Homo sapiens: one gene and its partners. The protein of the gene in region 1 purifies or fractionates together with the protein of each later gene. This does not show direct contact. Each region holds a gene or a part of one and is shown in the gene's direction. Other genes may lie near its edges.

Region 1 (3,500 bases):
CGGGTGGATCACGAGATCAGGAGATCGAGACCATCCTGGCTAACACTACTAAAAAAAATACAAAGAAATTATCCGGGCGTGGTGGCGGGCGCCTGTAGTCCCAGCTACTCGGGAGACTGAGGCAGGAGAATGGTGTGAACCTGGGAGGCAGAGCTTGCAGTGATCCAAGATTGTGCCACTGTATTCCAGCCCGGGGGGCCAAATAATAATAATAATAAATAAAGTAGATGACTTGTTGTACTGATACAGTTTGAGCCCAGGAGAATGACTCTCCCCATAACAATTGATCATTTGTCCTAAAAATGATTTGTAGCTATAGGGGATCCTCCTCTCCCCTCGTCACTCAGAAAATTTTTAATTGGATCTTCGATTTTGGTAGTATAACTTAATTTCTTCACAGTGTTAGAAAAGTGTGGTTAGACCTATGTTTTGCATGGAGGAGAATGAAATGACAGAATGTGTGATATTTTAGCCAACTTTTTTTAAGTTCATTTTATTAAGGTTTTATTAAAAAGTTAAAATGAAAAACATTTTATTGGCAGGGAGTGGCAGGAAGTCATTCACATAACTTATACACTCCTCAGGACCTGGAGGAATATAGTAACCACCAAAAGTGAGAGTTATTTTGTTAGAGCTTAGCAAACATCTCAGTAATTCTGATTTTTGTCATCTTTACCTATTTTTCATTTCTGTACCTACTAATTTTAACTTTTTTCTGTTAAACTAAAAATACCTGCAACAACATGGCCAAAAAAACCCCATCTCTACAAAAAGTACAAAAATTAGCCAGACCTGGTGGCATAGGCTTGTGGTCCCAGCTACTTGGGAGGCTGAGGCAGGAGGATCACTTGAGCCTGAGAGTTTGAGGCTGCAGTGAGCCATGATCGTGTGCCCCTGCACTCCAGCCTGGGCAACAGAGCAAGACCACGTCTCAAAACAAAAACAATACATGCCTACTTACTGAAAACTCTAAAATAGAAGTATATAATCCAGCCATCGAAAGAATCACCATTCACGTTTTCCTGTATATCGTTCCAGATACATATGTATGGTTGGTATTTAAAAACCTGCAGTTTATGTACGTGCATATATTCTGCTTTTGTCCCCCTACTTATGTCATGAGCATTTTCAGTTTTTTTTTTGTTTGTTTTTTTTTTTTGAGATGGAGTTTGGCTGTTGTTACCCAGGCTGGAGTGCAATGGTGTGATCTTGGCTCACTGCAACCTCCGCCTCCTGAGTTCAAACAATTCTCCTGCCTCAGCCTCCCCAGTAGCTGGGATTACAGGTGCTTGCCACCACGCCTGGGTCATTTTTTTGTATTTTTAGTAGAGACAGGGTTTCGCCATGTTGGCCAAGCTAGTCTCAAACGCCTGACCTCAGATAATCCACCCGCCTTGGCCTCCCAAAGTGCTGGGATTATAGGCATGAGCCACTGTGCCCAGCCTTCAGTTAATCTTAAATATTCTTCAAAATCCAACCAGCCTGGGCAACTTAGTGGGACCCCATCTCTACAAAAGAAAAATTTTTAATGATTTGGGCATGTGGTGGCTGCACCTGTAGTCCCAGCTACTTGGGAGGCTGAGGTGTGAGGATGGCTTGAGCCCGGGAGGTTGAGGTTGCAGTGAGCCATCACACCACTGTGCTCCAGCCCAGGTGACAGATTGAGATCCTGTCACCTCCCCACCCCCATCCCCCCAAAAAATATATATATGTATATGTATATATATTTCAAAATCTTAAACGTAATATTTCTTTTTTTTTCATATTGGCATTTCATCTCACAAATGTGCCACAGATTGTTTAAACCCTCTTCTGTTGGGTATTTGAATTGCTTTCAGATTTTTTAATATTAAAAATAGGCACCTGCTAGAATGAGATGATGGGATTGGAAGGGATAAGAAACTTGGGATTGAGATCTCTCATTTCTGCCACTTACTAGCTGGGCAGAAAATCATTTAACCTTTATGAGCCTTGTTTCCTCCTCCTAGAATGAATGTGGTAGTGCATACCTTACAGGGGTTCTTATGAGTATTCACTCCTTTAACAAAGCAATGACCACTCTAGGACATAGCTTCCTGTCTTCCTCTGCCCTTTATACTGTTACCATACTTTCTGTCCCTTGTGCCTATTTATATTCTAAACTTCGTTTTTACATAGGGATGCAGGTGCCGAGAAGACTGGGTATAGGTATACTATATGATTGGAAGGCTAGAGGTGGTCCTTTATTTTATTGAAACATAGCGAAGAAATTATCTTAGAATTTTGTGTTTTACTAAATGAATATGAAACTTCACATTTCATACAGCAGATATTAAGAAGGGCCTGCTATATACCTAAGGCCATACTAGATACATGACATTCATATATCGTTTGATTCCCACTTCAACCCAGTAAAGTGTAGGTACTTTTACTTCCTTCTGTCCTCATTGAGGAAACTGAAGTTCATTGAGACTGTGCACTCACATCACCCAGGGAATAAGTAAGATGTGTTGTTCTAGAGCTACTACTGCTACTACTGGCTGGTAAGAGCCAATTGTTAAATATCCAAGAACTTGTAACCCAGCCATGGTTTGCATTGGCCACAGGAGGCACATTTATACCTTAGAAATCAGCAAATGCTGCAAATCAGAGCTCTCTTTGAATTTCCAGAGTCATTTGCTAGGACACAGTTGGGTTTGAACCTAGGCCTTTTGAACTCCTTAATCCTCAAAACAAGAGATGGGTAAAGAATTGACATACACTCAAGAAAGTCTCATCTGTGCTATAATAGAAGCACATGGAAAAAATGGTGGAGGCTATTTTTGCATGTGATAGTATATTTTTGTATTTCCTTATATATTTGAAATGGAGTAGGAAAGCTTAGGTGAAGATTACGAAAAGTGAAATAAATCGTTTTTTCAGGTAGCCTAGAAGAGAGTTATAGAATGTATAATTTTCGTAGAAATACTTTTGTTCATCTGTTTCTTGAAGCCAAGAGAGAGACCACCAGTAGACCTAGCCATTGCCATTTCTGCCATTTACAAGCTGGGAGCAGAGATTATATATTTCTGATATCTGATATCAACTCTATTTTTCTTTTTTTTAAGAATCATATGCTTATATATACACCTACTGTGTACCCACAAAAAACATTTTTATATATACACCTACTGTGTACCCACAGAAAACATTTTTATATATACACCTACTGTGTACCCACAAAAAACATTTTTATATATACACCTACTGTGTACCCACAAAAAACATTTTTTTAAAGAATCATGCTCGAAAAGCAGAATTTGATAGAACTCTTGACTATCCCAGTAGCTGAAGTAACATGAACTGTGATTTTATTTCAAGGGTTTGTAAATGATATTCTTGAAATAACAAATGCAAACATCTGTAGAGCACTTACCACCTACCCTGCCACACATTGTTCTGCTTCTTTCATCCTCAGAACAACTTTGAGATAGATGCTACTATTAACCCTATTTTATAGAAACTGATGCACAGACAGGTTT
Region 2 (3,500 bases), on another chromosome or scaffold:
AAACTAACCCCCTAATCTTGTGTCCTACTGCTCTCCCATCACTATATCCTGGCATTCTGGGCCTCTTCATTGGTTCCCCTCTGCCTAGAATGCTCCTTCGCCAAGATAGGTGCATGGATGACTTTGTACTTCTTTCAGCAGCTGCTCAAATGTCATCTCTTTCAAGAACCTCTCCCCAACCCAACCACCCTATTTAAAATAGCATGTATGCATGTGTATACACACACACACACCTGTCCCTTTTAATCTCCATATCCTACATTAGTTTTCTTCATAGCACTTAGCACAATCTGATATAAAACATATTAATTTATTTGCTTTTTGTATGTCTACCCTCATTAGAATATAACCTTCATGAAGGGAGTAACCTTGTTTTCTTTATTTCTTTGACTCTGGCACTTAAAATAATGCTGAGCACATGGGAGGCTTTCAGTGGTACTTAGTAAATGAATGATACTGCATTACTGAGGTGAATGTACTGTCTTCAGATTAGGAATAGCTGTAATATCAGTTCCAATCAACTCTTGCTATCAACACATATTAGGTAATGAGTTTTTCTCACATGTAAGGCACTACATGGGGGGGCGCGGTGGCTCACGCCTGTAATCCCAGCACTTTGGGAGGCTGAGGTGGGCAGATCACGAGGTCAGGAGATCGAGACCATCCTGGCTAACACAGTAAAACCCCATCTCTACTAAAAATACAAAAAATTAGCCGGGTGTGGTGGCGGGCACCTGTAGTCCCAGCTACTCGGGAGGCTGAGGCAGGAGAATCGCGTGAACCCGGCAGGCGGAGCTTGCAGTGAGCTGAGATCGCGCCACTGCACTCCAGCCTGGGCGACAGAGCGAGACTCCGTCTCAAAAAAAAAAAAAAAAGTGGAAATATCCCTAGTGGAAATAATCCGTCTGTTTTACATATTTACCGGCTATTTCAAAGCTTTTGTTCATTCAGATGAGAAAAATGTCTTCAGTTGTAGCAGAGCTGTTTATTTGCTTTTCCTTGTAGCAATTTGCTGGGTCTGTCAGCCATTACCCTGGATAGTTGCTGGCAGCCCGCCCGCTAGTATCGGAATTCATTATAATTAGCAGAAGAGATTGTCTGCAGCACACTCTGATATTATGGCAGCAAAAGGATTTAGTAAAAGCAAGTCTGGGTCCATCCTGTGAGATAAGAAAGTAACCTGCTGCTTTTCGGGCAACAAGGAGTCAGAAGCCAGGGGCACCCGGCCTCTTTAACATAGACAGAAAGACTACATTGGAGCACAAATGGAAAGGTCCAGAAAGAAGCAGTTCTCTTATTCTTACTGGGTTCTAGGTTGGGATCACTAATATGAATTACAAGTAAAACCTTGAAGCATTTTAAATCCACCTCTGAAGGTAGCAAGTATCTATTTGAGAAAAGAAATAAAGGTGCTTCCCTTGTAAAGAAGCACTTTAATATTTGCTTTTATGTATTTATGCTTCAAACAAGACCAAAATATTGATAGTAATTTTTCCTATGTTTGGAAACCTGACCTAGATTAGCCCAAATTAGTACAATTACTCCTTGGTATAATTACCAGATTATACTTTGTTGTTGATTAACCCCTCCACTTACATGTCCATTTGAAAAATGTTTTAGCAATTTAATATAGCCTCTCACATGAAGATACTTTTAGGTATTCCATTAGGCTTTTCAAAGGAGCAGTTATTATTTTAGCTTGTCCTGTTTTTTTTTTCTACACTATTAGTGCTATTGATTTCCTTCCTATTTTTAAGATTATTTCAGAAATTGTAGTGTGTAATTTCTGTAATCCCAGCACTTTGGGAGGCTGAGGCAGGAGGATCACTTGAGCCCAAGAGTTCGATACTAGCTTGGGCAACATAGGGAGACCTCATCTCTACAAATAATAAAATTATTTTTTTTTTTAAATAGAAAAATTAGCCGGGCATGGTGGCACATGCCTGTGGTTCTTAGCTACTTGGGAGGCTGAGGTAGGAGGATTGCTTGAGCCCGGAGATCAAGGCTTCAGAGAGCCATGATTGTACCACTGCATTCCAGACTGGGCGACAGAGTGAGATGCTGTCTCAGAAAAGAAGAAAAAGGTTAAAAAAGAAAAGAAAAAAAAAAGAAATTATGTGGTTGGTTACTTTCTAATTATTTTAATTTTCAAATTTTTTGTAAGTAAATGTAGTGGGCATAAGAGGTTTACTCTTTTTTCTGTACTTTTACTGTTCACATCGATTTTAAGAAAGATCCATGTATGTATAAAGGAATGCCAATTGTTTTTTCTGCTTGTTTTCCTTATATATCTGTTCTGACTCATTAATTGTATTATTCAAATCTATAGGTTCTGTTTTTCTGTTTTTAAAAATTATATAAAGAAATTATAAATTCCATTTTCCATGTGTATAAGCAAAGTAGTCTGCAATGAAGTTGACCCTCCCTGTGTGCCCCTCCCCACATCGTCTTTTTCCCAGCAACAGTCATTGCTGTCAGTCTGTTGTGTCCTCTCAGGCCTCCTTAGAGCTATCTTTATTTATATGTATAAACATCCAAAGGAGTGGTGATTGTTTTCTGTTCTGATTTTTGCTCTAATGATATTCAGTTTCCAACTCATTCTTTTTATGCATGTTTTTATTCAGGACATAGTAAGTTTATTAGAAATACAAATGCAGAAGCATTTTATTTTCACTGTCATACCTCTCTGTAGTCTACGTTGTTCATCTTCATACTTTTTTGCTGTTAAATCTTGTCTACCAATTACATTCTGGGTTTGATTCAGTACCTGGCTTTTCTTTTTGTAAGGATCTTTAGCTTAAATTGTTAAAATGATTTATTGATGTCTGTTTGTAGGATGCCAAAGAAGACCATGAAAGAACACATCAAATGGTCTTACTGAGAAAGCTTTGTCTGCCAATGTTGTGTTTTCTGCTTCATACGATATTGCACAGTACTGGTCAGTATCAGGAATGCCTACAGTTAGCAGATATGGTATCCTCTGAGCGCCACAAACTGTACCTGGTAAGTTCTAGAGCCTTGTAGTTTTAAATTTTAATGATTTGATATGCTCTGTAGTAATATTAATTTTGTGAAGATGTGTTTACATTTGTAATTGCTCTTGGATTTTCTTAAAGTAATAGTCCAGTTTTAATGTTTTAATGTTTGTACTTTTTTCCCAAAATGTGTGTATATTTGTAAGCAGTTAGAAATATATAGACTGACTCTGAGAATTCACCTTGAAATTCCTGAACCACTCTAATTTACTAGGCTCTGGCTACATAAATCTTAAAGAGGCATTTCTTCTTATATGAAGCTAATCAGATCGATTAGGTAACTAAGTTCATACTTGTCTACTTGTCTTTGTTCTCATTCTTATTTCTCTTTTTAAAAATCAGGTATTTTCTAAGGAAGAGCTAAGGAAGTTGCTGCAGAAGCTCAGAGAGTCCTCTCTAATGCTCCTAGACCAGGGACTTGACCCATTAGGGTATGAAATTCAGTTATAGTTTAATCTTTGTAAT
Region 3 (3,500 bases), on another chromosome or scaffold:
GGCAACATGGTAAGACCCTGTCTGTACAGAAAATATAAAAATTAGCTGGATGTGGTGACACATACCTGTAGTCCCAGCTACTTGGGAGGCTGAGGTGGGGGAATCACTTGAGCCCAGGAGGCAGAGGTTGCAGGGAGCCGAGATCTTACCACTGCACTCCAGCCTGGGCGACAGAGTGAGACCTTGTCTGGGAAAAAAAAAATTCTTAAATAGTGACACAACTTTTAAAGGAAACTTTTCAATGATACTTTTAATATTTGTAAAATTAATATATACGCAGTGTAAAAATTCAGAAAGTGGAAAAATATAAGGAGAAAAAAACTACCCCGACCCTGTGACCCCACAAAACATTTTAGATTTCATTTTGTTCCTTTCCCCACTATGCAGGCATTCACTGGATCCTTGCTGACACAGTGCGCTTGTGTCTGCTTTAGCTAGAATAGGGACAGAAAGATGGGGGGGTGTGAGTCCTTAGAGGATGTGGAGAAGAGAGAGCTGGGTGCCGAGCTGGAGGTGAGCTTGGTGTGTTCCAGGAATAGCAGGAGTGCAATGTGGGGAGCAAGGGGCCGGCTCCCTGGGCTGGGGCCAGGAGGTTGGGTTCTGTTGTGAGTGTGATGGGTGTGTGAGCAGAGTGATGATAATATTTATATTTTAAGAGGATCACTTTGACTGCTGGGTGGATAATTCACTCTAAGGGGGCAAAGGTGGAAGCAAGTGAGCAGCTCCTCAGGAGACTTCCTGTAATGGGATGGTAGCTGTGGAGTGATCATATTTGGGATATGCTTTTAGAAATAGAATCAACAGGATTTGCTGATCTAAATAATTACTTAATAGTCTGAAAATGTCTTTATTTCTCTTACGCTTCTATTCCTGAACTCTTGGATCATCAGTCAGATATAGATATTCTGGTCTGAAGTGTTTTTCCTCTGCCCACTTTGAAGGTATTCTTTCATTATTGATGAGAAGTCTGATGTTAATCCATTTCTTACTCCTTTGAAGATGTGTCTGGTAGCTTTTAGAATTTTAAAAAATCCTGCATGTTCTGAAATTTTGCAATAATGTGTCTAGGTGTGGAACTTAAAAATTTACCTGGATTAACACTTGATGATCCTTCAATCTGAGGACTTTTCCTTTTTTTAAAATTTATTATTTTTTTCAAAGCTAGTGACAGACTTAGAATTTTTTTTTTGAGAAGGATCTTGCTGTATTGTCCAGGCTGGTCGCAAACTCCTGGGCTCAAGTGATCCACCTCAGCCCCTGAAAGTGTTGCAATTACAGGTGTGAGCCACCACGCAGGGCTGACTTTTTTTTAATGATAGAAAAATTTTACTATTTTTTCTTCATAATTTCTAACTGTTCTTTTGTTGTGTTTGATTTTCTAGCTTGCATTTAAATTGTCCTTTAGTATCTCCATTCTGCTATTTAGCCCATTTAAAAAAATTCTCAGTGTTTAGGTTCACAGTGATTTCCTCTGTGCTACCATTTTGCCTTTGTGCTGGCCGCCACCATCCTGTGTCTGTGTATGTCTCCGCTTCTAGAATTTCACGTAAATGCAGTCATACAGTGTTCAGTCAAAAGTTTTGAGACTTGTTTCTTTCACTTAGTATAACGCGTTTGAGATGCATTTACAGTGCCATATCAATAGTTCACCTTTTCATTGCAGAGTAGTGTTCCATTGTATGATGAACCAGTTTATCCATTTTACCACTGAGGGACATTTGGAGTGCTTCCGTTTTTGGCAGTTATGGATAATGCTGCTATGAACATTCATGGACAGGTTTTTTATGTGAACTTAAGTTAGTTTTCTAGAATAAACACCTGCAAGTGGGGTTGTTGGGCCTCAGGGCAGGTGCATGCTCATTGTTTTCAGAAGTTGCCAGACTCTTTTCCAGTATGGCTGTGGCTGCTTTGCCGCTGCACCAGCAGTGTGGGAGAGCTCCAGGGATGCCATGGCTCCACCCGCACACAGCAGTGTGGGAGAGCTCCAGGGATGCCATGGCTCCACCCCCACTCAGCAGTGTGGGAGAGCTCCAGGGATGCCATGGCTCCACCCGCACACAGCAGTGTGGGAGAGCTCCAGGGATGCCGTGGCCCCCCGGCACTCAGCAGTGTGGGAGAGCTCCAGGGATGCCGTGGCCCCCTGACACTCAGCAGTGTGCGAGAGCTCCGGGGATGCCGTGGCCCCGCGGGCACTCAGCAGTGTGGGAGAGCTGCAGGGATGCCGTGGCCCCGCTGGCACTCAGCAGTGTGCGAGAGCCCCAGGGATGCCGTGGCCCCGCGGGCATTCAGCAGTGTGGGAGAGCTCCAGGGATGCCGTGGCCCCACTGTCACTCAGCAGTGTGGGAGAGCTCCAGGGATGCCGTGGCCCCACCTGCACTCAGCAGTGTTAGTGGTTTTTAATCTTAGCTATTCTAGCAAGTGTGTTGTGATATCTCAGTGTGGTTTTAATTTTAATTTTCCTAGTGATGTTGAACATCTTTGTGTGTGTGTGTGTGTTTGCCATTCATATGTCTTCTTGGTGAATTATCTGTTCAAAACTTTTGCTTATGTCTTTGTGTTTTGCACATATTTTTTCTCAGTATTTTCATTCTCTTAACAGTGTCTTTTGCAGAGCAAAAGTTTTTAATCTTGATGAAGGCCAATGTATGAATTTCTAAAAAAATGGGTCATCATTTTGGTGTCATGTAGGAACTCTGCCAAACTCAAAGTTGCAAAGATTTCTTTGTTTTGTTTTATTTCTAAGAGGGGCTTATGTTTTACTCTTCTATTTAATTTTTGCTGGGGTGATCAGACCCAACACCAGGTCGTGGGGGTGACGAAGTCTGGTGGAGTCGAAGGAATGAGAAAAGACAGTTTGAGAGCGAAAGTGGGTCCAGGGGGCCATCGCTAAGTATGGAGGCTGTGAAGGCCCTGAGCTCTGGAAGCCCAGACTATTTATTGGTGATCAAACAAAGAAACAGGTGGTGAGAATGTGGGGGTCGAAAGGTCGCGTTGCATTAAGCACATGATTTACAGGTGTGATGATTTAGCATCTGCTCTGCTACTTGAGATAATGGAGAGCAGGTTCTTTTTTTTTTTTTTTTTTTTTTTTTTTTGAGACGGAGTCTCACTCTTTCGCCCAAGCTGGACTGCAGTGGCGCTATCCCGGCTCACTGCAAGCTCCGCCTCTTGGGTTCATGCCATTCTCCTGCCTCAGCCTCCCGAGTAGCTGGGATTACAGGCGCCCACCACCACGCCCGGCTAATTTTTTGTATTTTTAGTAGAGACGGGGTTTCACCGTGTTAGCCAGGATGGTCTCGATCTCCTGACCTCGTGATCCGCCCGCCTCGGCCTCCCAAAGTGCTGGGATTACAGGCGTGAGCCACCGCGCCCGGCCGAGAGCAGGTTCTTTTAACTCAAGATACAATCGATCCTGGGAGAGCAAGGAGCAAGGAGCCAGCAAGTCTAGACACATTCCAGAGCCACGAGTCCTGGATTCCATCCAAGCCACGAGGGGTTTT

Evidence for each region. The genes of interacting proteins can lie anywhere in the genome.
Region 2: the proteins of AHCTF1 (region 1) and NUP107 purify together in Homo sapiens (affinity purification with western blotting, with the first as the bait; one study listed by BioGRID). This does not show direct contact.
Region 3: the proteins of AHCTF1 (region 1) and TUBGCP3 purify together in Homo sapiens (affinity purification with western blotting, with the first as the bait; one study listed by BioGRID). This does not show direct contact.

The regions. Positions count from the first base shown.
Region 1 is NC_000001.11:246,844,949-246,848,448, reverse strand, and holds part of AHCTF1 (protein ELYS), read left to right. Parts: intron 1-3,500. UniProt on the Homo sapiens protein: Required for the assembly of a functional nuclear pore complex (NPC) on the surface of chromosomes as nuclei form at the end of mitosis. May initiate NPC assembly by binding to chromatin and recruiting the Nup107-160 subcomplex of the NPC.
Region 2 is NC_000012.12:68,738,978-68,742,477, forward strand, and holds part of NUP107 (nuclear pore complex protein Nup107), read left to right. Parts: intron 1-2,835; coding exon 2,836-3,003; intron 3,004-3,377; coding exon 3,378-3,485; 3' UTR 3,486-3,500. UniProt on the Homo sapiens protein: Plays a role in the nuclear pore complex (NPC) assembly and/or maintenance. Required for the assembly of peripheral proteins into the NPC. May anchor NUP62 to the NPC. Involved in nephrogenesis.
Region 3 is NC_000013.11:112,578,154-112,581,653, reverse strand, and holds part of TUBGCP3 (gamma-tubulin complex component 3), read left to right. Parts: intron 1-3,500. UniProt on the Homo sapiens protein: Component of the gamma-tubulin ring complex (gTuRC) which mediates microtubule nucleation.